7 linked regions of the Homo sapiens genome follow. The protein of the gene in region 2 interacts with the protein of the main gene of each other region in a pairwise test. Each region holds a gene or a part of one and is shown on either strand. Other genes may lie near its edges.

The links.
Region 1: the proteins of CNTROB (region 2) and TTC23 interact in binary tests that used the Homo sapiens proteins (3 or more experiments, as listed by UniProt).
Region 3: the proteins of CNTROB (region 2) and PELI1 interact in binary tests that used the Homo sapiens proteins (3 or more experiments, as listed by UniProt).
Region 4: the proteins of CNTROB (region 2) and APTX interact in a two-hybrid assay, tested with the Homo sapiens proteins (one large-scale study listed by BioGRID and IntAct).
Region 5: the proteins of CNTROB (region 2) and CWF19L2 interact in binary tests that used the Homo sapiens proteins (3 or more experiments, as listed by UniProt).
Region 6: the proteins of CNTROB (region 2) and EPM2AIP1 interact in binary tests that used the Homo sapiens proteins (3 or more experiments, as listed by UniProt).
Region 7: the proteins of CNTROB (region 2) and SMARCA2 interact in a two-hybrid assay, tested with the Homo sapiens proteins (one large-scale study listed by BioGRID and IntAct).

The regions. Positions count from the first base shown.
Region 1 is NC_000015.10:99,242,133-99,246,581, forward strand, and holds part of TTC23 (tetratricopeptide repeat protein 23), read right to left. Parts: intron 3,379-4,449; 5' UTR 3,257-3,378; intron 1-3,256. UniProt on the Homo sapiens protein: Participates positively in the ciliary Hedgehog (Hh) signaling.
Region 2 is NC_000017.11:7,941,257-7,945,705, forward strand, and holds part of CNTROB (centrobin), read left to right. Parts: intron 1-2,134; coding exon 2,135-2,268; intron 2,269-2,866; coding exon 2,867-2,992; intron 2,993-3,219; coding exon 3,220-3,382; intron 3,383-4,449. UniProt on the Homo sapiens protein: Required for centriole duplication. Inhibition of centriole duplication leading to defects in cytokinesis.
Region 3 is NC_000002.12:64,109,206-64,113,654, reverse strand, and holds part of PELI1 (E3 ubiquitin-protein ligase pellino homolog 1), read left to right. Parts: intron 1-982; exon of another isoform or gene 983-1,092; intron 1,093-4,449. UniProt on the Homo sapiens protein: E3 ubiquitin ligase catalyzing the covalent attachment of ubiquitin moieties onto substrate proteins. Involved in the TLR and IL-1 signaling pathways via interaction with the complex containing IRAK kinases and TRAF6.
Region 4 is NC_000009.12:32,984,000-32,988,448, forward strand, and holds part of APTX (aprataxin), read right to left. Parts: intron 4,131-4,449; coding exon 4,084-4,130; intron 3,848-4,083; coding exon 3,545-3,847; intron 2,032-3,544; coding exon 1,972-2,031; intron 859-1,971; coding exon 632-858; intron 1-631. UniProt on the Homo sapiens protein: DNA-binding protein involved in single-strand DNA break repair, double-strand DNA break repair and base excision repair.
Region 5 is NC_000011.10:107,447,252-107,451,700, forward strand, and holds part of CWF19L2 (CWF19-like protein 2), read right to left. Parts: intron 1-4,449.
Region 6 is NC_000003.12:36,983,984-36,987,288, forward strand, and holds the end of EPM2AIP1 (EPM2A-interacting protein 1), read right to left. Parts: 3' UTR 1,060-3,305; downstream 1-1,059.
Region 7 is NC_000009.12:2,080,877-2,085,325, forward strand, and holds part of SMARCA2 (SWI/SNF-related matrix-associated actin-dependent regulator of chromatin subfamily A member 2), read left to right. Parts: intron 1-955; coding exon 956-1,119; intron 1,120-2,470; coding exon 2,471-2,537; intron 2,538-3,209; coding exon 3,210-3,320; intron 3,321-4,449. UniProt on the Homo sapiens protein: ATPase involved in transcriptional activation and repression of select genes by chromatin remodeling (alteration of DNA-nucleosome topology).

The sequences.
Region 1 (4,449 bases), on a different chromosome or scaffold from region 2:
GAAAAAAAAAAAAAAAGTTAAAAAAAAGAAGCCATTATGACTAGTTTCTTAACTAGTGAAAGTGTACGCTAGTTAAGAAGCAAACTTACCCATATGTAAGCTAACGCACTGGAAAAACACTCTAAAAAGATAAAAAATACCAAAAAAATAGTGATAAAAAAATAACAGAAAAATAGAAAATCTGAATAGATCTATAACAAGTAAAAAAATTAAATTAGTAATTAAAAATATTTATACAAGGTTAAGCCCAGGCTCAGATGGCATCAGTGATGTATTCTACCAAACCATTAAAGAAGAAACAACATGAGTATTTTGAAAACTCTAACAGAAGATAGAGAAGGAAACTCTCACTTGTTCTATGAGGTCAGTATTACCCTGATACCAAAGCCAGACAAAGACATCACAAGAAAATAACAAATGAATACCCTTCATGAATATGGACACAAAAATCCTCAACAAAATATTGGCAAACCAAATCTAGCAACATATACAAAGGATAATACATTATGATCAAGGGGAGTTTATCCTAGAAATGGAAGGTTGGTTTAACATCTGAACTCATTAATATAATACACTATACAGTAGAATGTGGTCACAAACCATCTGATCATCTTGATAGATGCAGAAAACACATTTGGCAAAATCCATTATCCAATCATGATTAAAAAAACTTCCCCAACCTGATAAAAGGCTGATAAAAGCCTGATTTTACAAATCAAAGTGGATTAAAGACTTAAATATAAGACCTGAAACTATAAAATTACCAAGAGAAAACACTGGGGAAACTCTCTGGGACAGTGGTCTGGGGAAAGAATTCTTAAGAAAGATCTCAAAAGTACAGGCAACCAAAACAAAAATGGACAAATGGGATCACATCAAGTAAAAAAGCTGCTGTATAGCAAAGGAAACAATCAACAAAGTGAAGAGACAACCCACAGAATGGGAGAAAATATTTGTAAACTACCCATCTGACAAGGGATTAATAACCAGAATATATAAGGAGCTTAAACAAAACCCAATAGGAAAAAAAATCTAATAATCTGATTAAAAAGTGAGCAAAAGATCTGAATAGACATTTCTCAAAAGACATGCAAATAACCAACAAGTATATGAAAAAATACTCAACATCACTGATCAGCACAGAAAGGCAAATCAAACTACAATGAGGTCATCTCACCCCAGTTAAGATGGCTTTTATTAAAAAGGCAGTAACAGATGCTGGTGAGGATGTGGACAAAGGGGGACACTCATACACTGTTGGTGGGAATGCAAGTTATTACAGCCACTGTGGAGAACAGTATGGAAGTTCCTCAAAAAGCTAAAAATAGAAGAACTACCATATGATCCAGCAGTCCCACTGCTCCATATATATCCAAAAGAAAAGTATATCAGAGATATCTGCACTCCCATGTGTACTGCAGCTCTATCCACAACAGCCAAGATTTGGAATCAGCCTAAATGTTCATCAACACATGAATGGATAAAAAAATGTGGTAGATATACACACAAAACAGAACGAAATCCTGTCATTTACAGCAACATGGATGAAACTGAAGGATATTATACTAAGAGAAATTAACCAGGCAGAGAGAGACAAATTTTGTATGTTCTCACTCATTTATGAGAGCTAAAAATTAAAACAACTGAACTCATGAACACAGAGAGTAGAATGATGATTACCAGAAGCTGGGAAGGGTATTGGGCAGGGAGGGAAAAGTGGGGATAGTTAATGGGTACAAAACGTAGTTAGATAGAATGAATAAGATCTAGTACTTGATATCACAACAGGGTGACTACAGTCAACAATAAGTTATTGTATATTTTAAAATAACTAAAAGAGTAGAATTGGAATAATTCTAACACAAAGAAATGATAAGTGCTTGAGGACACAGATACCCACTTACTCTGATGTGATTACTATACATTGTATGCCTGTGTCAAAGCATCACATGTATCTCATAAATATATACACCTACTACTATGTACTCACAAAAATTAAAAATTAAAAAACAAAACCAAAAAATCCTGATTTACAAAAACCTAAAGCTAATATCATACTTAATGGAGCATGTTTGAATGTTTTCCAAGATTGGAAACAAGGCAAGAATGATTTCTCTCACCACCTGTAGTCAAAGTTGTGGATATTACAGTCAGAGCAACAGGCAAGAACAATAAATTAAGGCATGAAGATTAGAAAGGGAGAAATAAAACATTATTATCAGCTGACATAACCCTCTATGTAGAAAATCCTAAGGATTCCACAATAAATAAACAAATAAATCGCCCCCCCCAATTAGAACGACTAAATAAGTTCGGCAAGGCCATAGGATACATAATAAATAAATAAAATTGTATTTTTATATGTCAGCAATAAATAATCTGAAAATAAAATTAAGAAAACACTGATTCAAAATAGGATAAAGAGAATAAATATGTAGGAATAAATTTAACAAAAGAAATACAAGACTTGTACAATGAAAATCATACATTATCGAAAGAAATTAAAGATCTAAATACATGGACATTCCATGTTCATAGATTAAAAGCCTCAATATTAAGATAGAATACTCCTCAAATTGATGTATCGATTTAATGTAATATCCATCAAAACTCAGCTGTTTTTTTGCAGAAATTAACAAGTTGATCCTTATTATGGATGAATTAAGATGGAAATACGAGACTAAGAATAAATAAAACAATCTTAAAAAAGAAGTTGGAGGACTCACACTTCCCATTTTTAAAATGTACTATAAAACTAAAGTAAAAGTAATCAAAAGTGTTGTACTTAAAAATTTTCAGTTATGAGGTAAATAAGTTCTAGAGATATACAGCATGGTAACTATAGAAAATAATTGAAATTTGTTAAGATCTCAGATGTTCTCATCACACACACAAAAATGGTAATTATGTCAAGTGATGAATGTGTGAGCTAGCTCTATTGTGGGAATCATTACAAAAGGTACACTTATATCAAAACACCATGATGTTTACCTCAAATGTATATAATTTTTAGTTTGTCAATCATATTTCAATAAAGCTGGGGAAAAGCCCTCCCCAAAACAACGTGGTGGTACTGGCATAAGAAATGACATATAGAGGCCGGGCGTGGTGGCTCATGCCTGTAATCCCAGCACTTTGGGAGGCCGAGGTGGGCGGATCACTTGAGGTCGGGAGTTCGAGACCAGACTGGCCAACATGGCAAAACGCTGTCTCTACTAGAAATACAAAAAATTTAGCCAGATTTGGTGATAAGTACCTGTAATTCCAGCTACTCGAGAGGCTGAGGCAGGAGAATCGCTTGAACCTGGGAGGCAGAGGTTGCAGTGAGCCAAGATCACACCACTATACTCCAGCCTGGGTGACAGAGCGAGACTCCATCTCAAAAAAAAAAAAAAAAGAATTAATATATAGAAAAATGGGATAGTGTTGAGAGTCCAAAAATAAACTCTTATATATGTGAATTATTTTTTTTAACAAGCATGCCAAGATAATTCAATGGGAAGAGAACAGTCTTTTCAATAAACAATAAACAGTGCTGGTACAACTGGATAGATACATGAAAAGAATAAAGTTGGATCTCTACACCTCACACCATATACAAAAATTAACTCCAAATGGAGTAAAGACTTAACAGTAAGAGGTAAAACTATAAAACTCTTTGCAAATATAGGAGTAAATCTTCATGAACTTTTTTTTTTTTTTTTGAGACAGACTCTCGCTGGAGTGCAGTGGCGTGATCTCGGCTCACTGCAACCTCCACCTCCCAGGTTCAAGACATTCTCCTGACTCAGCCTCCCTGACTCAGCCTCCCAAGCAGCTGGGATTACAGGTGCCTACCACCACGCCCAGCTAATTTTAGTAGAGACGGGGTTTCACCCTGTTGGCCAGGCTGTTCTCGAGCTCCTGACCTGAGGTGATCCACCCGACTTGGCCTCCCAAAATACTGGGATTACAGGTGTGAGTCACAGGGCCCAGCCTGTTAGGCAAAGACTTCTGAGATATAACACCAAAAGCATAAGTGATAAAAGAAAAAAAAAGATAAATTAGATTTCATCAAATCCAAATCTTTACTGCTTCAAAAGACACTATTATTAAAGTTAAAAGACAACCCACAGAATGGGAGACAATATTTGTAAATCATTAATCTGATAAAGGACTTTAACCACAATATATAAAGAACAATTAAAAATCAGTAACATGGGGCTGGGCGTGGTGGCTCACGCCTGTAATCCCAGCACTTTGGGAGGCCGAGGTGGGCAAATCACGAGGTCAAGAGTTCAAGACCAGCCTGGCCAACATGGTGAAACCCTGTCTCTACTAAAAATACAAAAAATTAGCTGGGCATAGTAGTGGGCACCTGTAATCCCAGCTACTCAGGAGGCTGAGGCAGGAGAATCGCTTGAACCTAGGAGGCAGAGGTTGCAGTGAGCTGAGATCGAGCCACTGTAC
Region 2 (4,449 bases):
TTATAAATGGTTAACTTAAGGAGGTACCAGTGAGGCCAGCATTTGAGAACCACAATCCTTTGGCCCGGTATGGTGGCTCATGCCTGTAATCCCAGCACTGTGGGAGGCCAAGGCGGGTGGATCACTTGAGCCCAGGAGTTTGAGACCAGCCCGGCCAACATGGTGAAACCCTGTCTCTACTAAAAATACAAAAATTATCCAGGTGTATGGTGCACACCTGTAGTCCCGGCTACTAAGAAGGCCGAGGCAGGAGAATCGCTTGAACCCGGGAGGTGGAGGTTGCAGTGAGCCCAGATTGAACCAGTGTACTCCAGCCTGGGCAACAGAGTGAGACTCCATCTCAAAAAAAAAAAAAAAAAAAGAATTGACCTAGGGCTTCAGGTGTTACAATGAGATCACATGCGATAAAGACTAAGAAAGCATCCGGGTGTGGTGGCTCGCACCTGGAATCCCAGCACTTTGGGAGGCCGAAACGGGCAGATTGCTTGAGCCCAGGAGTTCAAGACCAACCTGGGCGCAATATGGCAGTACCTAAACTCTGCTAAAAATACAAAAACTTAGCCGGGTATAGTGGCATGCACCTGTAGTCCCAGCTACTCGGGAGGCTGAGGTGGGAGGATCAACTGAACCCTGGAAGTAGAGGCTGCAGTGACCCGTGATCACACCACTGCACTCCAGCCTGGGTGACAGGAGCGAGACCGAGTCTCAAAAAAAAAAAAGACAGAAAGGGCCAGGTGTGGTGGCTCACGCCTGTAATCCCAGCACTTTGGGAGGCTGAAGTGGGAGGATTGCTTGAGTCCAAGAGTTTGAGACCAGTCTGGGCAACATAATGAGACCCCATCTCTACAAAAAATAAAAATATTAGCTGGGTGTTGTGGCACCAGCTTGTAGTCCCAGCTACTCTGGAGGCTGAGGTGGGAGGATCTCTTGAGTCTGGGAGGTCAAGACTGCAGTGAGCCATGATCACACCACTGCACTTTAGGCTAAGCAACAGAACAAGACTCTGTCTCAGAAGTAGGGGCTGAGAAATAACCACTATTTGGATTTAGAAATTGAGTTCTTTGGGCCATGCGCGGTGGCTCACACCTGTAATCTCTTTGGGAGACTGAGGCGGGTGGATCACGAGGTCAGGAGATTGAGACCATCCTGGCTAACACGGTGAAACCCCGTCTCTACTAAAAATACAAAAAATTAGCTGGGCGTGGTGGCACGCACCTGTAGTTGCAGCTACTTGGGAGGCTGATGCAGGAGAATTGCTTGAACCCGGGAGGCAGAGGTTGCAGTGAGCCGAGATCGCGCCACTGCACTCCAGCCTGGGTGACAGAGAGGGACTCCATCTCAAAAAAAAAAAAAAAAAAAAAAAAGAGGTTGAGTTCTTTATAGTAAAATACTATACGTGGAAATCAGATTTTAGTGAGTTGAAGGACTGTGGCTGAGAAAATGGAGACACTTATAGGTTGACTGCTTAAGGAGGAAGAGGCACTGCCATTTATTGAATGTCTACTGGCTTTCAGGTACTCTACTCAGGGTATTTTTTTTTTTTTTTTTTTTTTTTTTTTTTTTGAGACGGAGTCTCGCTGTGTCTCCCAGGTTGGAGTGCAGTGGCGCGATCTCGGCTCACTGCAAGCTCCGCCTCCCAGGTTCATGCCATTCTCCTGCCTCAGCCTCCCAAGTAGCTGGGACTACAGGCGCCCGCCAACACGCCCGGCTAATTTTTTGTATTTTTAGTAGAAACGGGGTTTCACCGTGTTAGCCAAGATGGTCTCGATCTCCTGACCTCGTGATCCGCCCGTCTCGGCCTCCCAAAGTGCTAGGATTACAGGCGTGAGCCACCGCGCCCAGCCTCAGGGTATGTTATATCAGACACGTAGAATGGATTTGATTGCTCTGTCGAACATTTATTTTAGCTAAGAAATTTATGTCTTTCACCCATAGTCATTTTCACTTTGATGTATGTTTAAAGTGCGAATATCTTAATAAGGAAAGGGAACCTCTTTCACTCCTTGAGGCAAAATTCTTGTTCTTCATCTCATATGAGGGGAAAGTTGGTACTGGATTTTGTCTACATTATATCCTCCATCCTCTTCTAAGCCCAAACAGATTTGGGCCGTTATCCCACCTTCCTTCACTCCAGGCCCGGTATGAAAGCCAGCGGATCCAGCTGGAGTCGGAGCTGGCTGTGCAGCTGGAGCAGCGGGTGACAGAGCGGCTGGCGCAGGCTCAGGAGAGCAGCCTACGGCAAGCAGCCTCCCTCAGGGAACATCACAGGTACGTGGGACTCACTGGGTGTCACTTCTCTCAGCCACAGCACGTATCGTTAGTGCCAGGCCTGTGTTCCCTTCAATCCCTTTGCCATGGTCCAGCACTGTGACTCCCAGGGTGCGCTAACTCCCATCAGCTGGGACCTGAGTCTCTCTCGGGAGGGCTGCCTTCACGCGTTCATGGAGAGCCAGAAGTGCCTGGGAATTTTCATCCCATAGGGAGTAGCCCTTAACCAAGAACTGATGGGTGCAGAATGATAGATGGTCCAGCTCCCTCACTGGGACAGTGCTGAGGTATGACCTGTGCTGTCTCCAGAGCTGCTCTGTCGGACTGAGCCTCCTCGCAGCCTGGCCTCACTTCTCCTCACACCCATTCTGCTGCCGAGATTTTCTGGAACTGCTTCCGAAATAAATTTATTTAAGTCTCTGCTTCTGAGGAACCCATCCTAAGACCCCAGCTTTGTCCTTGCCGCTTCCTGTGCCATGGCCAGGCTAGCTGACTGGCTATCTGGGTCACTGTCATGTGCACACATGATGTCTTTTTCTCAGTTGGTCACTTCTTCTGTCTCCAGTCTCAGGCCTCTTCTCCTACCTGTGCCCTGTAGGAAGCAGCTGCAGGACCTGAGTGGACAGCACCAGCAGGAGCTGGCCAGTCAGCTAGCTCAGTTCAAGGTGGAAATGGCAGAACGAGAGGAACGGCAACAGCAGGTGGCTGAGGACTACGAGCTCAGGTCCTGGTCCCCAGAGTGCCCCTTTCAGGCCCCAGCCCCTTTCCCATGGGTAGAGCCCAAACTGGGAACGGTGAAGAGCTGCTCCCTTGATTGATCTGTCCTCCTCTACATGGGCCCCAGCTCCTTTCAGAATATCAGATGTCCAACATTTCCCTTCTGGCTCTTTTTAGCTCCCAAGTATCTGCTTCCTTAAAGGCCCTGAGTCACTTCTTCTCTCTTTGCTTCAGACTGGCCCGGGAGCAAGCGCGAGTGTGCGAACTGCAGAGTGGGAACCAGCAGCTGGAGGAGCAGCGGGTGGAGCTGGTGGAAAGACTGCAGGCCATGCTGCAGGCCCACTGGGATGAGGCCAACCAGCTGCTCAGCACCACTCTCCCGCCGCCCAACCCTCCAGTACGCCTTACCCCTTGAGCTAAGCTTCTCCGTTATGTTCTATTTTTATTTTTATTTTTGAGACAGGGTCTCACTCTTGCCCAGGCTGGAGTGTACTGGTGAGATCATAGCTCATTGCAGCCTCGAACTCCTGGGCTCAAGTGATCCTCCCACCTCTAACTCCCAAAGTGCTGGGATTCCAGGCATAAGCTACCATGCCCAGCAAGAACTGTGTTCTAGATTCCTTCTTTGGAAATCTAGCTCCCTCCCAAGGGAAGTACTAAGTTCAGCTCCTAAGGCCTACATCAGGGGAGAAAAATCGGTGGACTTTACAAATAATAACTGCCTCAGCAAAATAAATCCTTTTTTCCATGGCCATAGCTCACTCAGACTGGCCCCATTCCATTGGGCATAACTCTAGTCTCCCAGTCCCAAGAGGGGACAAATGATACGTGGTACTAGTTTTGTGGAGGGACAGCTGAATTAATTATGAGGGAAAGGGCCAAAAATTGTTGCCAAGTCCTGCCCCAGAGTAGAGTAGGGAGTCTCACTTCCTAGCCCTTCATACGTTGATACTTCCCACTTCCTTCTTTTAATTATGAAATTCTAGCAGGTGTGGTGGTGCGCCTGTAATCTCAGCTATATGGGAGGCTAAAGCAGAAGGATCACTTGAGCTCAGGAGTTCAAGACTAGCCTAGGCAACATAGTGAGACCTCATCTCAAAAAAAGAAAAAGAAGAAAAAATTAGGATATTTTAATTTTAATTTTATTTATTTATATACTTATCATTTATTTATTTGAGACAAGGTCTCACTCTGTTGCCCAGAGCGCTCAAGCAATCTTCCTTCCTCAGCTTCCTGAGTAGCTGGGACTACACACACGTGCCATTGCCCCCAGCTAATTTTTAAATTTTTTGTAGAGATGGCATCTCTCTATGTTGCCAAGCCTGGTTCAAACTGCCAGCCTCAAACGGTCCTCCCAAAGTGTTGGGATTACAGGTGTGAGCCACTGCATCCGGAAATTTATAATCTTATTAAAGTGTTTGTACCATGTCTTATCTCTTTAAACCTACTGTGCTTTGACCCTTC
Region 3 (4,449 bases), on a different chromosome or scaffold from region 2:
TCCAGAATATGTTTATTTTAAAATTTTTTTTTAACTCTGGAAGTTTAGTTCCTGCTAATGAGAGCAACATGCTTTCGAGTATCAAGCAAAGTTTCAAAGTAATAGATAAAATAGAAGACAGTTTTATTAGGAAGATTTTCTTTAGCATTTCTTCTAGTCTTGAGTAGAATTAATGGTGCTATTTCATGTTCTTGGTGCTAGATAACATTGGGATAGGGCTGAATACATGAGGTCAAACTAACTTAATTGAAGACCAACAAATGAAGCCAGTAATCGAGACATTCGGATGTTTTTTATGTACATACTCATTTAAAGTTCTCAAGTACATGACTTCAGGAATTTTTTTTTTTTTTTCTTTTTTTTTGAGACAGAGTTTCTCTCCGTCACCCAGGCTGGAGGATCACAGCTCACTGTAGCCTCAAACTCCTGGGCACAAGTGATCCTCCCACCTCAGCTTTCTGAGTAGCTGGGGCTATAGGTGCATGCCATGACATTTGGCTAATGTTTTCTGTTTTTACTTTTTTTTTTTTAAATCTTTTGTAGAGACGGGAGTCTTACTATGTTGCGCAGGCTGGTCTCAAACTCCTGGCCTCAAGTGATCCTCTCACCTTGGCCTCCCAAAGTGCTGGGATTACGGGCATGAGCCACCATGCCCAGCCTAGGAATTCATTTTGAAGAATTCTTTTACTCAGATTTTAAAATATAGAGAGAATATATAAAGACAGTGAGTAGGAAAGCATTGTCTAGGTACTGGTCTTTGTTAAAGAGTATAAACCTTTGGGAAGATCATGAATCTTTCTTCAGAGAACACATAAAAAAAAAAGTTCCAGGAAGAATAGCTGTCACAGCATTTTATTTGCAGTTTAATAAGGCCAGTTGTATATTGATTGATTATATGCCATTTTTAAATTTTGAAAACTATCTTGGGTCATTTATGTATATAAATAACTGGTACTACAAAAGTGTTTTATTTTGGGTTTAGATTATCAAATACAGAAGTAGAAGCCAAGATTGAATGTGTTCCTGTGATTGAAACTTTGATGTCACTGATAAAATATCCCCAGATAAGGCCTTCTAAGAGATCTAAGCAGAGTAAGAATATGTCTGATTGGAAATATATTGTTTTTCTTGGCTAATTTGACCAAGGGCTCTAGAAATTATATGGAGGGTATATGCCAGCCGTACTCTTGTTTTTTAGTTTCTTGTCTAAGCAAAAAAATTGTTCTTTTGCTATAGACGCAATAGAACTAAATCTATAGTGTTATGCACGTTACTTGTAAATTCTTATGTCAGGACCAAATGGTCGCTTATATTTTTTCCAGCTCCCAAATTCCCTTTATTCCACTTTAGTCCCTTCATTTTCAGAGATGAGGAAACAGATTGCTTTGTTCAAAGACAGCTAGAACTAGAACACAGGCTAATACTTGCTAGCCATGTGATATACTAATGTCAGCCAAATACGGGCATTTACACTTTCAGATGTTTGCCATATCTGTGCACTTACTAATTCTATTTAATACAATTTAAATTGACTCCTTTAAATAAGCTTATTTTAAAGGAAATTTTTTGCTACTATAAATAGAAAACCATTATATCCTTTAAATAGTAACTCTAAATAGGAATTCAAAACAAAGCAACGTTATTAAAATTTAATTTAAAATTAATTTAAATTTAATTGTTATTAAATTTTTAATTATTGCTGTTCTTCGTCAGAAATGTGTCAAAGCATTGTTTTCATGTTTGATGTCAGTTCCTTAATTGTCTAAACAGAAAAAGCACAGCTAATGCCTCTAGTTAAGCTTCTGTATAACTTTTTTAAATGAAATGCTTCTTAGAGGGGAAATGAGAGGGCATGAATACATGTTTATATACTAAAGTATGATTTCATGTATATCAGAAGATCTTATTATATGGAACCAAAATTATTCTTTGGTTGATTTAATTGTTCTTGAAACTTCAGTTTTTACCTTGAAGGTTTTAGTTAGCTTAGCATAAGTTTATTTTTCTAAATAAGGAATCTGATTGCCTCACAACTCAGATGTATCACAGTTATGGTGAAATAGCAATATATTGGTTTCTGTAACCTTTTAAATACCGTAATGAATTAAAATCTCTTCAGCAAAAGCAAATATATCTAGGGTGACGAGAGGTGTTTTTAGTGTATTTGAATGATGGAAATGTTTTTCTTAAAATATTTCTGAAGCATTTTTTAAAATAATTTTTTGAATTTATTGATGATAGTAGTTGTGTGTTAGTGTGAATGACTGGTCTAAATGTGTATGTCACTTCCAAGGGATTAGTAGGGGTCAGAATGATTTGTTTTATTCATTGACTTTTCCTTTGACGTGTTCTTATTCATTGGGCTACATACATTCCCTGTTGCCTTCTCACCAAAAGTGCCACTACACAGGCTGTATTTCATTGTACTGTAGAAAAAGACAAGTAGACCTTTTTCATTCATGAGATTCCTATGAAATCTGTTGGTGGAGGTATAAAATGAGGAGACTTTTATGGGCTAGCTAGTAGGAGTTTTGCTGTGAAACCTTTGTAACAGGTCTATCAGGAACTAGGGAGAGAAATAAATGCAGGAAATACTTGATCCCATTAAACTGAGGATGAAAAAGACATGATAATATTTTGGGGATTATTTATTGTGTGATTTTCCGGCTGATCAGAAGTGTTAATTTTTTGTTATACTTGTGTCAAATACATATATATATATATATTTTGAAATGGAGTCTTGCTCTGTCACCCAGGCTGGAGTGCAGTGGTGCGATCTGGGTTCACTGCAACCTCTGCCTCCAGGTTCAAGTGATCCTCCTGCCTCAGCCTCCCGAGTAGCTAGGACTACAGGCACGTGCCACCACGCCCTGCTAATTTTTGTATTCTTAGTGGAGATGGGGTTTCACCATGTTGGCCAGGCTGGTCTTGAACTCCTGACCTCAAGTGATCTTCCCACCTTGGCCTTTCTGAACTATTTCCTTTACACACATTTAGAACTACATCTAACTGTATTATAGTTTTCACTTTCACCATCAGACAAAATTCAGAAGATTCAAGAGAAGGAAAGTCGATTGTATTTACTCATATTTTTGCTACCGTGTTTTTACATCTCATATTTTAAGGTTCTTTTATTTATTTATTTTCTGTTTAGTTAATTTCCTCTAGCCATTCTTTATTTATAGTGGGTCTGCTGGTAACAAATTCTCTCAATTTTTCCTCGTCTGAGAATGTCTTGACTTCCCTTCCATTTTTGTCAGCACCTGAAAAATACTATGCCACTATCTTCTGGGTTCTGTGGTTTCTGATGAGAACTCCACTGTCAGTCTAATTGTCGTTATAAATGCAGTGTTCTCTCTCTCTCTCTGCTTCCAGGATATTTTTTCTTTTTTTTTTTTTTTTTTTTTCTTGAGACGGAGTCTCACTCTGTCGCCCAGGCTGGAGTGCAGTGGCGCAATTTTGGCTCACTGCAAGCTCTGCCTCCCGGGTTCAAGCGATTACTCCCACTTTAGCCTCCCAAGTAGCTAGGACTACAAGGCACACCACCATGCCTGGCTAATTTTTGTATTTTTAGTAGAGACGGGGTTTCACCATGTTGCCCAGGCTGGTCTCGAACTCCTGACATCAAGTGATCTTCCCGCCTCCGCTTCCCAAAGTGCTGGAATTACAGGCGTGAGCCACTGCTCCCAGCCTCTTTATTTTTTCAGCTTTACTCTTTCTTCTGTCTTTTTGACATGTGTGTCCAGTGACACACGTGTTAGATTTTGCTATAGTCTCACGCACGGGTCTATAAGGCTCTGTTTTTTGTTTCATTTTGTTTTTCCTATTTTCTCTCTATTCAGATCGAGTAATTTCCACTGTTCAGTTTTATCATAGCTGCTTTTAAATCTTTGTCAGGTAATTCTGTCATCTAAGTTTTGGCACCTATTGATTATCTTTTGCATTGTTTTTGTTTTTGTTTCTGTTTTTGTTTTGAGATGGAGTCTTGCTCTGTTGCCCAGGTTGGAGTGCAGTGGCACTGATCTCGGCTCACTGCAACCTCCTCCTCCCGGGTTCAAGTGGTTCTCCTGCCTCAACCTCCTTAGTAGCTGGGATTACAGGCATGTGCCACCACGCCCGGCTAATTTTGTATTTTTAGTAGAGACCAGGTTTATCCATGTTGGTCAGGCTGGTCTCAAACTCCCAACCTCAAGTGATCCGCCTGCCTCGACCTCCCAAAGTGCTGGGATTACAGGCGTGAACCACTGCACCCAGCCTATCTTTTGCATTGTTTTAAATCTTGTTCTTGCTAGGATGAATGATTTTCTGTTAAAACTAGATATTTTCATATTATGTTCCTAGGCTCTGGATATTATCTAAACCTTCTGTTTCCACTGGCTTTTATTGACACTGCTTTGGCAAGGTCATAGGGGGTGCCTCATTACTGCCAGGTGGACATAGAAGTCAAGG
Region 4 (4,449 bases), on a different chromosome or scaffold from region 2:
ATTTTGTTATGTATATTATATCACAGTTTTTTAAAAACAAAATAAAAACTCTAAAATCTAGACTTATCATCTTATTGCTTAAATCAAAGAAATCACGGAGATCCACCTTGCTTGTATTCTTTGAAAGAAATCAGTCATTCCTTTCTGAATCCTTCTGGGCATAAGCCACAGGAAAACAAATTCTATACTTTTCTCTCATTTTATTTTCAAATCCTGGATCTACTACGCTGTCATTACAGAAGTCTATGATGTTTGTTTCCTTCAGAGTAATGGTCCTTAATCATTCTGGGGTTATAGACGCTTTTGAAGAATCTGATAAAAGCCACTGACCACAATTCTTTATCTGAGGATAATGAAGCTGCTTCATCTAGTTCATATATTAGGCTCTCGAAGATTTATATTTTGAGAGGAACAAAGAACCAAATATGACTGAATTATAGGCAGAAGTGGGAACTCAAAGCTTGCATGCAAGTCAGGCAGAGAGGTGGAAGCTTCAGCCCACCTGCTTTGGAAAAACTCCATCCCACTTCCCTGGGTCTCAGTGCAATATGTGCCCTCAGCAAGCCCAGGCTGAATCTATCTGCCCACCTGGACAGAACCAGGAGCCAGCAGCACTACCCACCTGGCTTACCTCATACTCGGAATGGCGTGGTAGCCCAATCGGAAGCGGAGTTTGCTGGACCCAGCAAAATCTACAATCACCTTTTCCCCCACAGTGTGCATATGCTTAAGGAGTTCAAGGTGTTCCCTGGCCACAGCCTTCAGACTGGAAATGGAGGTCCACGGTAAGACCAGCCAATGGTAACGGGCCTTTGGGTATTTATCCTTTATCACCACCACCTGCTCATCTTTGTAAACCTAGCAGAGGGATACAAGAGAAGGAAACAGACATCTACTAAGAATCTTCTGTGTGCCTGGTTGTTATATTCACTAAGTCACTTAATTCCCACAGTCTTGTGCAAATGGTTTTAATAGCCCAGTTTTGAGAGAGGAGAGCACTGAAATTCAGACAGGTTGAGTGTCTTGCACAAGTCATAGTTCCTAAGAGGGAAATCTAGGATTCCAACTCAGATGTGGTTGACTCCAGAGTCTGTTTTCAACCACCACACTACACAGAATACACAGAAGATGCACAGTACAAAATAGTTCCCAAGAATGTGATGTAAAATCTCTGTAGACATAAATTCAAAAGCATCCTTCTCCACTCCAACATGGCAGACTGTGTGACACGTACACGTGGGTTCCAGTGAGCCCTATTAGACCTGCCCCTTGTCAACAAGGAATATAATTGAAGTGGGACTCAAAGGCTCCTCAAGGATGATGCCTGTTTTTTTTTTTTTTTTTTTTTTTTTGAGATGGAGTTTCGCTCTTGTTGCCCAGGCTGGAGTACAATGGTGCAATCTCAGCTCACCGCAACCTCCACCTCCCGGATTCAAGTGATTCTCCTGCCTCAGCCTCTCGAGTAGCTGAGATTACAGGCATGCACCACCATGCCCAGCTAATTTTTTGTATTTTTAGTAGAGACAGGGTTTCTCCATGTTGGTCAGGCTGATCTCGAACTCCTGACCTCAGGTGATCCTCCCGTCTCGGCCTCCCAAAGTGCTGGGATTACAGGGATGTCTGACTGTTAATGCCAGGGCAGCACAGTACTACTGTCACAGTGTATTATCTCTGATGCTCCCCTGAAAGGAACCATACTAAGGTTAATGCAACTTCCCTTAAAGTACCCAGAAGTTTAAAAGGCACAAGGCAGAGGGGATATTCATTTGAAGAACTCAGCTTTCTCTCCAAACAATGACAGCTGCTACTTTATTGCCAATGTGAAAAGCCTCTTGTTCTCACAGAACAGCCCAATAAAATGAATCTCATTCAGAAAGACTGATATCCTTTGATTTCATTTGTAATTAAGACCTCTGTGGAGTGGTCATTTACAACATGAAATGTACTGAAATTCCAAAATTGTATTCTGACCTGCATTTTGGGGTCCTGCATAGAAATCTTCAAGCCTTGACTCCAGTGGCCCAGGGATTCCTAAAAAAAAAACAAAAAAAAAAACAAAAAAAAAAAAAAACAAGCAATGTAAATTACAAATGCCAATAATTAAATTTGGCAACAGTTAATACTGTGTGATAGCACAACTAAACTTGGAAATAAGCTTAGTTTTTGAGAATTAAACAAGATTCACTTGACTCTGCTTCACTCCATTGCCTTCCTATATTCTCTTTTTTTTTGAGACAAAGTCTCACTCTGTCTCACCCAAGCTGGAGTGCAGCGGCGTGATCACTGCAACCTCCGAAGTGATTCTCCTGCCTCAGCCTCCCAAGTAGCTGGGATTACAGGTGCCCACCACCACGCCCAGCTAACTTTTGTATTTTTTAGTAGAGACGGAGTTTCACCAGGTTGGCCATGCTGGTCTTGAACTCCTCACCTCAGGTGATCCACTGGCCTCCACCTCCCCAAGTGCTGGGATTACAGGCGTGAGCCACCACACCCGACCCTATATTCTTTCTTTTTTTTTTTGAGATGGGGTTTCGCTCTTGTTGCCCAGGCTGGAGTACAATGGCGTGATCTCGGCTCACTGCAACCTCTGCCTCCCGGGTTCAAGCGATGCTCCTGCCCAGCCTCTGGAGTTGCTGGGATTATAGGCATGCACCACCACGCCCAGCTAATTTTGTATTTTTAGTAGAGATTAGGTTTTGCCATGTTGGTCAGGCTGGTCTCGAACTCCTGACCTCAGGTGATCTGCCCATCTCGGCCTCCCAAAGTGCTGGGATTACAGGCGTGAGCCAGCACACCCAGCTGTTTTTTATTATTGTTGTTGTTTTTTGAGATGGAGTCTCGCTCTGTCGCCCAGGCTGGAGTGCAGTGGTGCAATCTCAGCTCACTGCAACCTCCGCCTTCCAGGTTCAAGCAATCCTCCCGCCTCAGCCTCCCGAGTAGCTGGGATTACAAGCATGTGTGTACCACCAGGCCCAGCTAATTTTTGTATTTTTAGTAGACATGGAGTTTCACAATGTTTGCCAGGCAGGTCTCAAACTCCTGACCCTCAAGTGATCTGCCCACCTCGGCCTCCCAAAGCGCTGAGATTACAGGCGTGAACCACTGCACCCAGCCAGCCTTCCTATATTCACAGCTGGCTGTTCTAAATGAAGGCGAGAAATGCCAGAGTATGAGTCATACCTTCTTTGCCCTCTCTCACTGCAGCTACAGCCTGACCAATTCTCCACTTTGACATCAGCATATGAATTACATGATCTATGAAAACCTTCTATAGATGCATAAACAACTGATCCACTTTAGTTGTTCAATGTTAAGTACACACTGCCATTATTGTTGTACCTTCAGGTGGCTTACCTCAGGAATTTAAGAAAAAAGCACATAAAGGAACATTCATCCAAATGATTTTCACGCCACAAACAAGTGACTCTTTCATCATGGTTAATAACCCCTCACGCATTTCTGAACTTTAAAGTGTACAAAACAATTAAGCAGTCATTATATTTCATTTCTTCTCCACATCATCTACCAATCACACTACCCTCACCTTTTTGATAGGTGCATCTTTTCCCTTCTTTAGGGGCACAGAGCATTGGCCAGAGTTGCTCCCAGGTTCCAGCCCTGTCCCAGCCTCAGCTTCCTGAGCAGCATCCCTTTCTATAGAATCACTGTTGCCTGATCTCTTTCTCTTCCTGTGTGTTTCCAGGCCAGGGTTCTTTGCCTCTTCCTCAAACTCTACAATATATGGATAAAGTTCATTCACCATGTGGAGAACCTGGCCAGGCTGCAGCTTCACCTCTTGGTCCTTCCCAATTACGACTGAGTCAATGCTGGTGGGATTGACTCCTACCTATGGAATAAACAATCAGAAAATAATTATAATAATAGCAACAGCACCTACAGTAAGATAGCCACTGCTATGTTAACCACTTACTATATGCCAAGCACCTTGCCTTATGTTCACCTATATTACTCCATCACTTCCATACATGACAGAGAAGCCTTCACTGGCTGGCACAGACACTCTAAAGTCAACAGCATAAGAAAATCATCGAGTATAAAATTCCAAGTTATAAATACACCTACCTGCTTTACCTTGACATATCCCTTGTTACACTCTGCTTTCAACTGTACTGAAAGAGATTGGAAAAAGTTAAACACAAATGCAACAAAGAACCAGGCACTTGCTCCTATCTTCCCTAAAGAAAACAAGCTTCACTACAGGCGGCAGCTGAACAGGTGGTGTTTCCTTAAAGGCCTATTAGCAATCACCTGTTATTGCAGGTGGCTGGAGCTCCAAATCCTACCAATTTCTAAAGGTTTAAATCCTTCCATAAAATGTCCAACAGCGTACATACTCCCTTAGCTATTGCCAAGATCCCTATGAGGCAGCTTCAATTAATCCCCACAAGTTTCCCTATTCCAGAACCCCTGGCCTGCTCATGATCACAG
Region 5 (4,449 bases), on a different chromosome or scaffold from region 2:
GAATTTGAACTTTGTGAAGGCTGAAACAAAAGTACAGATGGGAAGTTACACAGAGAAAGGGTGCCAGAAATCTACTTAAAGGACCCCTGGAGTCTTTAAAGAAAGACCAAGCTGAACATGCTGAGGATGAGAGTCCACAAGGTCAGGCAAAGAAAAATTACCATGGAGAAAACAATTACCAAAGAGCTGTAAGCAGAACAATCCCCAGAGCTCACAAAGGGCTGGAAGACATTCTAGTTCCTCCCAACCAGAATAAAGAAACCTCGCTGAACATCCATGACAATCAGCAGAGAACCCACAAAGGTCATGCCTTAGTAGAAAGGCTAAACCAGTCCTAGAGTAAAGCTATTCTAGGTGCATACGAACAAAACTTAAAAACAATCCTTGAAAAGGATTAAGCTAATTCACAAGTAATTAACTGTATGCCAAAAGGAAACTCAATACTCTCTGAAGAAGTCAACAAAATCCAGCAGTCACAATATAAGTTTCATAGGGTTCAGCATCCAATTAAAAGTTACTAGACATTCAAAGAAGCAAGCAAATGTGACCCATATTCAAGAGAAAAATCATTTAATTGAAACAGAACAGGAAAAAACAAGAGAAAATGAAACAGCAAACCAAGACTTTAACACAGCTATCATAAATATGTTCAAGGAAGGGAAAATGTAAAGATAATGAGGAGATAAACTGAAAAACATTAGAAAGATCCAAACGAAACATCTAATGATAAAAAAAAAATACAGTACCTGAAATGAAAATGTCACTGGATAGGGATAACAGTAAGCTAGACACAGCAAAAGAAAAGGCCAGTCGGCCAGGCGCAGTGGCTCACACCTGTAATCCCAGCACTTTGGGAGGCTGAGGCAGGCAGATCACGAGGTCAGGAGATCCAGACCATCCTGGCCAACATGGTGAAACCCCATCTCCACTAAAAATACAAACAATTAGCTGGACGTGGTGATGAGCACCTGTAATCCCAACTACTCAGGAGGCTGAGGGACGAGAATCACTTCAACCCAGGAGGCGGAGGTTGCAGTGAGCTGAGATCACGCCACTGCACTCCCGCCTGGCAACAGAGCGAGACTCCGTCACAAAAAAAAAAAAAAAAAAAAAAAAAGGCCAGTAAACCTGAAGCTCACGACATAGCAATAAAATATACCCAACCCAAGGCATAGAAAGGAAAAAGGCTAGAAAGTAAGTGAACACAGGCTCATCAACCTGTGAGACATTATTTTAAGGAGACTACCAAAATGAGAGGGAACAGAAAAAAAAAATACTTCGAAAAAAGCCTGAAAGTTTCATATTTGATGGAAACTGTAAACTCACAAATCAAAGCAGCACAATGAACCTAAGGCAGATGCTACACTCTGAATGTTTGTGTCCCCCACCAAATTCTTATGTTGAGATCCTGACTCCCAAGACAATGATAATAGGGGCTGAGGCCTTTGGGAGATGACTGGGAATGGGATTAGTGCCCTTATAAAACATAGCCCAAGAGCACTCCCTTCTGCCATATGAGGTTAGAGTGAGAAGACAGCCATCTCTGAGGAACTGAACCCTCATCAGACACAAAGTCTACCAGCGCCTCGATCTTAGACTTTCTAGCCTCCCAAACTGTGAGAAATAAGTTTCTGTCATTTATAATCCACCCAGTTAGTTTTGGTATAGCAGCCCAAATGAACTAAGACAGTAGAATAAACACAAAGAAATCAATACCAAGACATATCACAATTGATTCACTGAAAAATAATGATGAAAAAAAAAGCCCTAAAAGCATCCAGAATAAAAAGGCACACTACATACAGAGAAAAAATATTACAATGACTACAGAGTTCTCAATATGTACAATGCAAACCAGAAGACAATGGGATGACATTTTACAGTGCAAAAAAAAAAAAAAAAAGAAAACACTATAAACTTAAAATTCTTTATCTAGCCAAGTATCTGAAAAATGAAGATTGCTAGTAGGAACTTCTGAGTTTGTGGTAAAAGAAAAAAAGAATGAAGATGAAATAAAAGAAATTTTCAAACAAAAGCTGAGAGAATACAATGTCTGCAAATCCATATTATAATACATGTTAATGAAAGTTCTACAGACAAAAGGAAAATGGTATTAGACAGAAATTCAGACCTACATAAAATAATAAAGAATATCAGAGATGATAAATCTGTGGGTAAATATAAAAGACTTTCTTCATATGTGTAACTTATTTAAAAGATAACTGACTAAAGTATAAATAAAAAGAATGTATGACATTAAAAATTATAAACAATGTGGGTTTATAACATATGTAGAAGTAAAATATATGACAACAATAGCAAAAAATATGGTAGGAGAAAATGGAAGTATATTTTGGTGAAAGTCTAATTATAAAAGTAAAATTATATATTATTTGAGAGTATGGTAAGTTAAAATATGCATAAGACTTAAAGCAGTCATTAAAAATAAATAAGGTATACCTAATAAGCCTACAGCAGATGAAATGGGATGCTAAAAAACACTCGATCCAAAAGACAGGAAAAGGAAGGAACAAAGGAAAAAAGAACAAAGAAAAAATAGAAAAGGAATAACAACATGGTAGACTTAAACTCATCCATATCAATTATTACATTAAACATAAATAATCCAAACCAGTACTATTCAAAGAATTTTTCTATATACTGTCGAATATAGTAGCCACATAAATTTGGCTGATATAATTTTAATGAATTTTAACAAAAAATTTAAAAGCCATAAACAGCTAACAGATTAGAGAGCACAAAAAACATCTAATTGAAAAGTAAGAGACGTGAGCCAAGATTGCGGCACTGCACTCCAGCCTGGGTGACAGTGTGAGACTCCATCTCAAGAAAAAAAAAAAAAAGGAAGAGGCCAGATGCAGTGGCTCACATTTGTAATTCCAGCACTTTGGGAGTCCCAGGTGGGAGGATTGCTTAAGGTCAAGACTTTGAGACCAGGCTGGGCAACATGGCAAAACCACATCTCTACAAAATATATATAGATCATAGGCTAGAATATAAAATGTCTCAAAAACTTTTTAACAACTGAAATTATACAGAGTACAATAAAATAATAATTAAATCCAAAGTCAATAACCAAAAAAACCTAATAAAATCCACAAATATCTGGAAATTTAAAAACTCATATATATATATCCTGGACGTCGAAGTGCACACCCGTAGTCCCAGCTTTCAAGAGGCTGAGGTGGGAGAGTCACTTGAGCCCCAGGGGTTGAAGCTGCAGTGATCTACTACACTCTAGCCTGGGCAACAAAGCAAGACTCTGTCAATCAATCAATAAATCAATCAATCAATAAAATAAAAAAGAAGAAATTGATAGGCGAGATAAAAAAGCAAGACCCAATTATACACTGCTTACAAGAAATACACTTTCAATATATAAAAAAGGTACATTAAAACTAAAAGAATTTTAAAAAGACGATGAAAACACACAAAAAAAGAAAACTGAAGAGGCTTTATTAATATGAGATACAAGAGACTTCAGACAAGAGTATTACCAAAGATAAAAACGAAAACTTCGTAACAACAGTCAGTTCATCAAGGAGCTGTCTATGTACCTAATAAAGCTTCAAAATTACATAAGGCAAAAACTGACAAAACTGAAAGCAGAAATAGGTAAAATCCACAAAACAATTAAGAGATTTCAATACTATTTTCTCAGTAACTGACTGAACAGGTGAACAGAAAATCATTAACACTAAACTTAATACTATTAGTCAACTTTCCCTAATTGACATTTATAAAACACTATACCTAACAATGGCAGAATACATACTCATTTCAAATACATATGGAATTTTCACCAAAATAGATCATAGGCTAGAAAATAAAATGTCTCAAAAACTTTTTAAAAACTGAAATTATACAGAGTATAACATAATAATTAAAATCAAAGTCAATAACCCAAAAAAAAACTAGAAAAATCCACAAATATCTGCAAGTTTAAAAACTCTTATATATCCATGAGTAAGAAAAAGTAAAGTAAAAAATATTTTGAATGGGACAGCAATGAAAATATAACATCAAAGTTACGTAGAGATACAACAGTGCTATGAGAAAATTTTATAAAATAAATACACGTTAGAAAAGATTTCAAATCAGTGGCGATACATTCATCTTAGAAAGTTAGAAAAAGAAGAGCAAATTAAACACAAAGTATTCGCAAAGAATAAATATAGTTTAAATCAATGAAATAGAAAACACACAACCAGAGAAAATTCAAGGAAACTAAAAGGCAATAAAGAAAGATTAATAAAACTGATAAGCCTCAAGACAGACTGACAGAGGAAACAAACAGAAAATAGAAATTACCAAAATCAGGGATGAAAGAGGGGTATCACTATGGATTCCGTAAACATTAAAAGAACAAAGGAAATATTACAAATAACTTTATGACAATAAATTTGACAATTTCTATGGAATAAATTC
Region 6 (3,305 bases), on a different chromosome or scaffold from region 2:
GGCGTGGTGGTGCTCGTCTGTAGTCCCAGCTACTTGGGAGGCTGAAGTAGAAGATGAACGCAGGAGGCAGAGGTTTCAGTGAGTCGAGATCTCGCCACTGAACTCCAGCCTGGGTGACAGAGCGAGACTCAAAAAAAACAAACAAAAATTGGTAAACTCTAATTTAGAATTAGTAGAATTAGGAGGTAAGATCTTACACATTCCTCAAATTTGTCAAGATTTTGCATTTTAATTTCTAAATCCCTTCCAGGAGTTAAACATCAGTATAAATTGGGGTAACTGATTTAACATAAACCAGTGTTATAGCTTATGTCAAAACTATCTACTTAGATTACAATCTCTTTTAAGGACAAGGCCACATCATTAATTTTGATTCCCAAGTTTACAAGCACTATGTCTAGTACAGAGGAGAGTGAGAAGGAACAGGGAAAGGGATAAAGGGTATGAGGTAAGATGGTAGGAAGAAAAAGGGTATGTGTGCAGAGTATGTGTGGGTGCAGAGTATGCAGGGTCTCGTAGGCCATGATAGACATTGGACTTTAGTCTGATTGTGATACAAAGCCATTGGTGATTTTGAGCAGACAAGTGGTATGGTCTGATTTATATGAATATACACACATACACACATATTTTGTTTTGCTTGAGACGGAGCCTTGCTCTGTCGCCCAGGCTGGAGTGCAGTGGCATGATCTCAGCCACTGCAACCTCTGCCTCCTGGGTTGGAGCGATTCTCCTGTCTCAGCCTCCTGAGTAGCTGGGATTACAGGCATGCACCACCACACCTGGCTAATTTTTGTATTTTTAGTAGAGATGGGGTTTCACCATATTGGCCAGGTTGGTCTCAAACTCCTGACCTTAGGTGATGCACCTGCTTCGGCTTCCCAAAGTGCTGGGATTACAGGTGTGAGCCACCGCGCCTGGCCTAATTTATATTTTAAAATAAGGATCACTCTGAATGCTATGTAGAGAATAAACTATATGAGGAAAATATAGAAGCAGGGTACATACCAAAGAGTATGCCAAGAATGGGTGCACATGCTCACTGAAAGACAGATGTGATCATTTTCATAGTAACTTTATTCATAATGACCACAAGCTGGAAACAACCTAAATTTCTATCAACGGTAGAATGGGTAAGTTGTGATGTAGTCACACAATGGAATACTACACAGAAGTAAAACATGAACTGCTACTACATATAACATGGATTACTCTCACAGATACAATGTTGAACAAGACACGGAAGAGTGCATATAATTATTTCACTTACATAAAGTTTTAAAACAGGCAAAACTAATCCGTGGTGATAAAAGGGGTTGGTGGGGGCCTGGGGAACATAAGGACACCTACTGAAGTGCTAGAAATATTCTATATTTTGACCTGGGTGGTGCATTCAAGGGCATATATAAAAACCCACTGAGGTGTACACTTAATATCGGTACACTTTTAAATTTTACCTCAGTAACAAGTTGAAAATATATTGGAAGAAAGCATATAAATGAAGATGTTAATCAGTGGTGTTGTCTTCCAAATATTTCTGGTTTTTCTCCCAGGTATATGCAAGGATCACACTCCTCCTAGAACTTTAATGTGGCTATGTGATTTGCTTTGGCCAATGAAAGTCCTTTAAGAGTCCTTAAGTGATTTGCCATACTCTTTTTTCATTTCCCAAAGTTAGCACCCACACTCCTGATGGTATCTGCTTTGTCAGCCTGAGACCCAGAATGAAGGCAACTTAGAGCACAAATTGGTGAACTTTCTCTGTAAAGGGCCACAGAATAAGTATTTTAGGTTTTGTGAGATGTACACACTCTGTAGCAACTACTCAGCTGTGCCATTGTAGAACCAAAGTAGCCACAGATAATAAATAAATGGACAAGGCTATATTCCAGTAAAACTTTATTTAGATAAATAAGGAGCTAGACAGATTTTGCCCATGGACCATAGTTTGATCATGGCCAACCTATGATCTAAACCAAAGTCCCTAGGCAAGTTGCAATAGAAAAGTTGTGTGAGACAGTGAGATTTTGCCTTTGTTATTCAATGGCAAGCTAGCCCATGCTGACACAGAAATTGGTCCCTTGTTTTTTAAAATGCTAAAATACTGAACACTGGCTTAATGGTTAGCTGGCAGGCATTCAGGAAATTGCTATCAGAAGATGGAAGAAATAACTTACACAAGGGTAATTTATATTATGGAAAGGTGAAACTGCCCCTTGAGATAACCTGAAAGGCAGATCATCTACCCTTTACTAAAGAAAAAGACAGAAAAACAAAATATTTTGTAGTTGCTGTTCACTGCACTTGACAAAACGTACAGAAGAGATGAACTCAGAAAAGACTGGTCAGTTTGCAGGCAAAAATGAAAAGGAAGAGAATTCAAATTCAAGTACTTACTGGGTAGGATGAGGCAACATTTTAATATCAAAAAGAAAGATAAAAATGGGAAATCCTTTTACAAATAAATAAAAAGAGAAATCCTTTAGCCAAAAGGTTGATTAAAAGCCAGTTTTGCCGCCGGGTGCAGAGGCTCACACGTATAACACCAACATTTTGGGAGCCCGAGGCGGGCGGACTGCTTGAGTCCAGGAATTCGAGACTAGCCTGGGGAATACAGCAAGACCCTGTCTCCACATAAAAATACAAAAATTAGCTGGGTGTACTCGTGTATACCTGTATTCCCAGCTACTTAGGAGGCTGCAGTGGGAGAATTGCTTGAGCCAGGAAGGCAGAGATTGCATTGAGCTGAGATTGTACCTCTGCACTCCAGCCTGGGTGACAAAGTGAGACCCCGCCTCAAAAAAAAAAAAAAAAAAAAAAGCCAGTTTTGCAGCAAGCACCAAATCACTGGATGACTATGACACCTACTGTTAAGATCTCTGAATGACTTAATATGCCTCAGACTAAAACTCCAACTAAGATTATACTAGTTAATCCCATAAATTGGTCAAAATGGCTTAAGGAAACAGACTAAGGGTGTGGCTTTCCCACCTAAGCCTGAAAAGCCTCAGTTACCCAGAAATTAAGTTCAGAGAGGCATGGGAACAAGAAGGCAAAGGAATACAGCAAACTTTAGAAGTATACATTAACTAGATGTCACTTTTGGGTCATCTCCCTTTGGGTGATAAGGACATTCTGCAGGTGTAAAAACAAGTGAACTGAATATATAGTGACCAGAAGGGCTGAGTCAGTCTTCTACTTTGTTAAATTTACTTACTTTTAAATCCCAGAAGAGCCAAAAATCATCTGTAAAGGAAAGTAGCAAGTAAATAGCATGCCATTTTCTCCTAGTGTTGATGCCTACA
Region 7 (4,449 bases), on a different chromosome or scaffold from region 2:
TTGAGCTTCTGAAGGGAGGCATGCATCTTACAGACCTTGGTATCTATCTGCTACAGCTCCTTGCATGGCCCCTTGCACAGAATAGTCATTTAATAAATATTTTAAATAAACTAATTGCTTGCTTTGTTCTTACATAAAAAATTAACATTTCCCTAAGCATAACATCATTAGCAAGCTAAATTGACTTTAGCAAACATATATATAATTGATCCTATCATTTAAATCCAGCATCTGTGGTATGATGGTGGAAGGGAATTGTTGGTTGGGGGATGGAGGTTTAACAATTTTGTATTTTCACCCAACCTTACTTTTGTACTTAACGTGGGGAATCTCTGGTACAGTGTTTTTGTACTTCAGAAATACGTTGAGCATGTTTCCAGTTGCCAGCTTCCAGTGTGCAGCCTTTGGGTAGTACTCACATTACAAAGTTCCCATGTGCTGTCTGGGAACTTTCTCTCTGCCAGGAAGAGAAATGTCCTCCTGTGGTCCCAGCAGAGTGTCCCTGGCTCCCTGGTCAGTCCGCCTTTTCACTGAGGGGACCTCACCCATATTACCGAAAAGGCTGTTTTTAATAATCTGTGATCTGTGTGCCAAATCTGCCTTCACATTGGCTTTTTATTCTTGGAGTGGTTGGATTAGATTTTGGTTTGGGCTTTTTTCATTTATAATAATTCTAGAATGTCACATACTGTGAAATACTAAGTGTGGATGAGCGGCAAAGCTGCTTTAAAACTCACCTGTCAAGAAGCAAGAAGAGAGAAAGCTTACTCATGGAGAGAATGATCAGGCTCATATTTTACATTCTTTTTGCATTGGTGCTTCCCCCATTTTCCTACTGTGGGAAACCCAACATACAGCAGTGAGGAGTTAAGAAGTCACACCCTCACTTGGGTTGTATTAGGATTAATTACCTGTGCAGATCTTGGATAATTGAAGCAATTACTCTTCATTTCAGCTCCAGGGCCTGGAATGGATGGTTTCCCTGTATAATAACAACTTGAACGGAATCTTAGCCGATGAAATGGGGCTTGGAAAGACCATACAGACCATTGCACTCATCACTTATCTGATGGAGCACAAAAGACTCAATGGCCCCTATCTCATCATTGTTCCCCTTTCGTAAGTAAAGTCATTTATTCCACAGTCATCGTTCTGTATGTTGTAGAGTGCCCGATTAGTAGCTTGTCCTTGTTTTTTACTTAAGACAGAATTGTAGCATGTACTAACCTAAATCCAGATTACCAAGAGCATGTAATCTGGATTTAGGTTTTAATTTCCCACCCCTCCCCATCCTAGCCTGTTTGATTGGCTATTTAAGCACGGGACCGAGTGATTTTATCGGCCATCAGCATTACAGGTCTGCACAGCCTGAACACTGCATAGTGAGTCTTGCTCATCATTATTCCTTAAGTGGCTCACAAAGGGGAAAGGTGTGTGTGTGTGTGTGTGTGTGTGTGTGTGTGTGTGTGTGTGTGATTTCTTTGATTTTTTCCTTATTCCATTTCCAAAAGATGATATATTCTTAAATCTTCCTTTTAAAAGCAGAACATAAATCAAAATCATAACTAGGAGTTTTGCATTAAAATAACCTTAGTATGTGCACTGAGGTTATGTTTCAATGAGTTTGCTGCTTAGTAAGGACAGGAGTTTGCTGTTCGCCATTACGTTCCCAGTGCCTCACCTGCTAGGTGGTTCTTAGAAGGTCCTAAGTGGGCACTACCGAGTGAGGGCACAGTGATTCACAAGCACCCTCCTGGGAGTTCAGTGTGTCTGCCTGTGGGTGTTAGGTTGCAGTTTTGTTCACCAAGGTCTTGTTATAGATCTCAATGCTGATATGAACTTGGACCTTCAGTAAGAAGAAGGATTCTATTAATATTATTGTGTTTTCTTTGAATTTTTTCTAATGAAGACTATTTGCAGCCCTTTTTGTATGAATTATCTGTATCTGTAATATTTAGGCATCTTTTGCATTTGATCTATATTTTGCGTGTTCTGAATCATATATACAGTGACACTTTCAGGGCTTTAAAAAACGTCATTCAATATTTCTTCCCCTGTTCCCTCTTGACAGATTTATTTTATGTTTTCATGTGGTTTTATAATTTCTTTTTCCTGACTCATCTTTTTTCTGAACCTATATGGCTGTTTATGAAGATTCCTAAAATCATTCTGGCAATTGCTCTTTTTTAATATCATATTACAGTTTAGTTTTTTGCTCTCTATATTTATGTATTCTTTAGTTTTTTTCTTACAAGATTTTTTTATGAACCACAAACTTGTCATGTTTTGTGACAGTTTGTTTTGAACTTATCTCCTATTTCCACACCTTTAAAATAAATATCTTGTTGAGATATGTTATATTCTGTAGCCCCTTTCAAGGTGAGGCCTGAACATGAATAAGAACATCTTTTTAACCATTGATTTTTATACAAATGTCTTTTTTCTGTTGTTTTTTTTTTTTGTTCCATAGGACTCTATCTAACTGGACATATGAATTTGACAAATGGGCTCCTTCTGTGGTGAAGATTTCTTACAAGGTTTGGAATGCTGTATTTATATATAAATGTGGAAAAGCAAAAAATAGACCCTATTTTCTTCATTCCATATGCACATCTGTGAACTGTATTTGGTTGTAAAGTTTTGTCATGTACATCATGTACTAAACCGTGAGAGTTAATCATCCCAAGAAGATTACTGTAATAAACCATAATTACTTTCAGATAGTGAAATCCAGAAGAAAATTGTTAATTATCATATTGCAAGGTTTCTGATGAGAGTAATACAAATGACAAATATCACACATTCTGCGTGCTGCTGACTGGCTCGCTGTGGGCTGCTACTGTGCTGACTGTTCCTGCAAAGTCAGGCAATTACCCGGATGCCCGGGGCTGCCTGCTGTACTTTCTCAACAGAACTGGAGCCTTTCAGCAGAGCGGTGGGTTCTCTACTACCACAAATTCACTGTCATTTCCATTTCCCTTTGCCCTCCCACTGTCTTTGGTGGGAAAACCTTTCTAAAAAAAGATCTGAAAAGGGTCAAGACGTGTAATTTAGCCAAAACTTCCTCGTGTATAATAGATCAGTCTATGAGAATGTGTGTCTGTGCATTCTTCAGTCACATGTCTGGGCATCATTAAGCTATGAAAAGTGAGAAATAATGCACATATATGTCCATAGGATCATGCATGTATTTTTTTCTTTCCATTCAGGGTACTCCTGCCATGCGTCGCTCCCTTGTCCCCCAGCTACGGAGTGGCAAATTCAATGTCCTCTTGACTACTTATGAGTATATTATAAAAGACAAGCACATTCTTGCAAAGGTATGTTTTTAAAAAATTATTTTCTCTCTAATTAGGACCATTGCACTGGAATGTGAAGTATTGCCCAAGTCAGTAGTGTAATTGGATCCTTAGATGGCTTGTCCTTTTCTTTATTTTTCTAAAATTTTTTCAGAGTTTGATATGTTTTGGTCGTGGATTTGATTTCATGCATGCTGTGTGTGTGTGTGTGTGTGTGTGTGTGTGTGTGTGTGTGTGTGTGTTTATGATTGATCCTGGGGCGGCTCTTGTCTATCCCCTCAGAGTTGATGAGTTTACATCTCTTAAAAAAATTCACCTGGTTGCTTCTGCAACTCTTTTTCTCTCTAACAGCTTTGCACATTCTCGGGAAAGAAATAATTGTTTTTGTTGCCCTGAGATATTGTCAGTGTACCTTCATTCTTCTTGTGCCTTTGTTTCTCCAAAGATGAGCCAGACACCTCTCCATATGGTCTCCACCATATGAACATTTATCCAAGCCGTGGCTTTTGTGGTAGTCTTGTTTCAGGTTTTTCCTGGTGAAATAATAGACTATCATTGTTGGAGTTACTTAAGGTTGTTTCTGTGACTATTTATTTGAAACTGAGAAAGAGGTGTTTCTGTGACTTACATGTCTCCTAATTTTTATGTCCTAAGTTGTTCCTTAGCCACAAAGTAGAAATTTTTACTCCCATTTATATCATCTTGTCTTCTAATACGTTCATGTAGAAAGATGGAAGTGCTCTCTTTCGTGGAACAAATAATGAAAACTCTTTTTTTTCCTCTTTAGTAATTTTTTTTACCCCATGACGTTTTGAAAGCACTATAATCTGAAACTAAGTTATGTCCAAAATTGAATAGAACCTCTATTTCTGGGGTCTATTCTACCTCTGCATTAAACTCTTGCTCTGGGAACTGAGAGTTCCCTTCATGGCATCATAGGAAATAACAAAAAGGAAATGTGTTCCCAGGGGAGGTTTAATAATTGAGATGGCACTGGCAACAATGCTGTGTTCCACCTCCTCACACTCAGAGATGAATTTGGCAGTGTCAAAAATGATGTGTTTTCAATATTACTATGGGAATGTGTTTGTACATTTGAGATCCTTTTAAAAAAATTCATCTTGTGTCTTCTGCATATGTATTTCAAGAT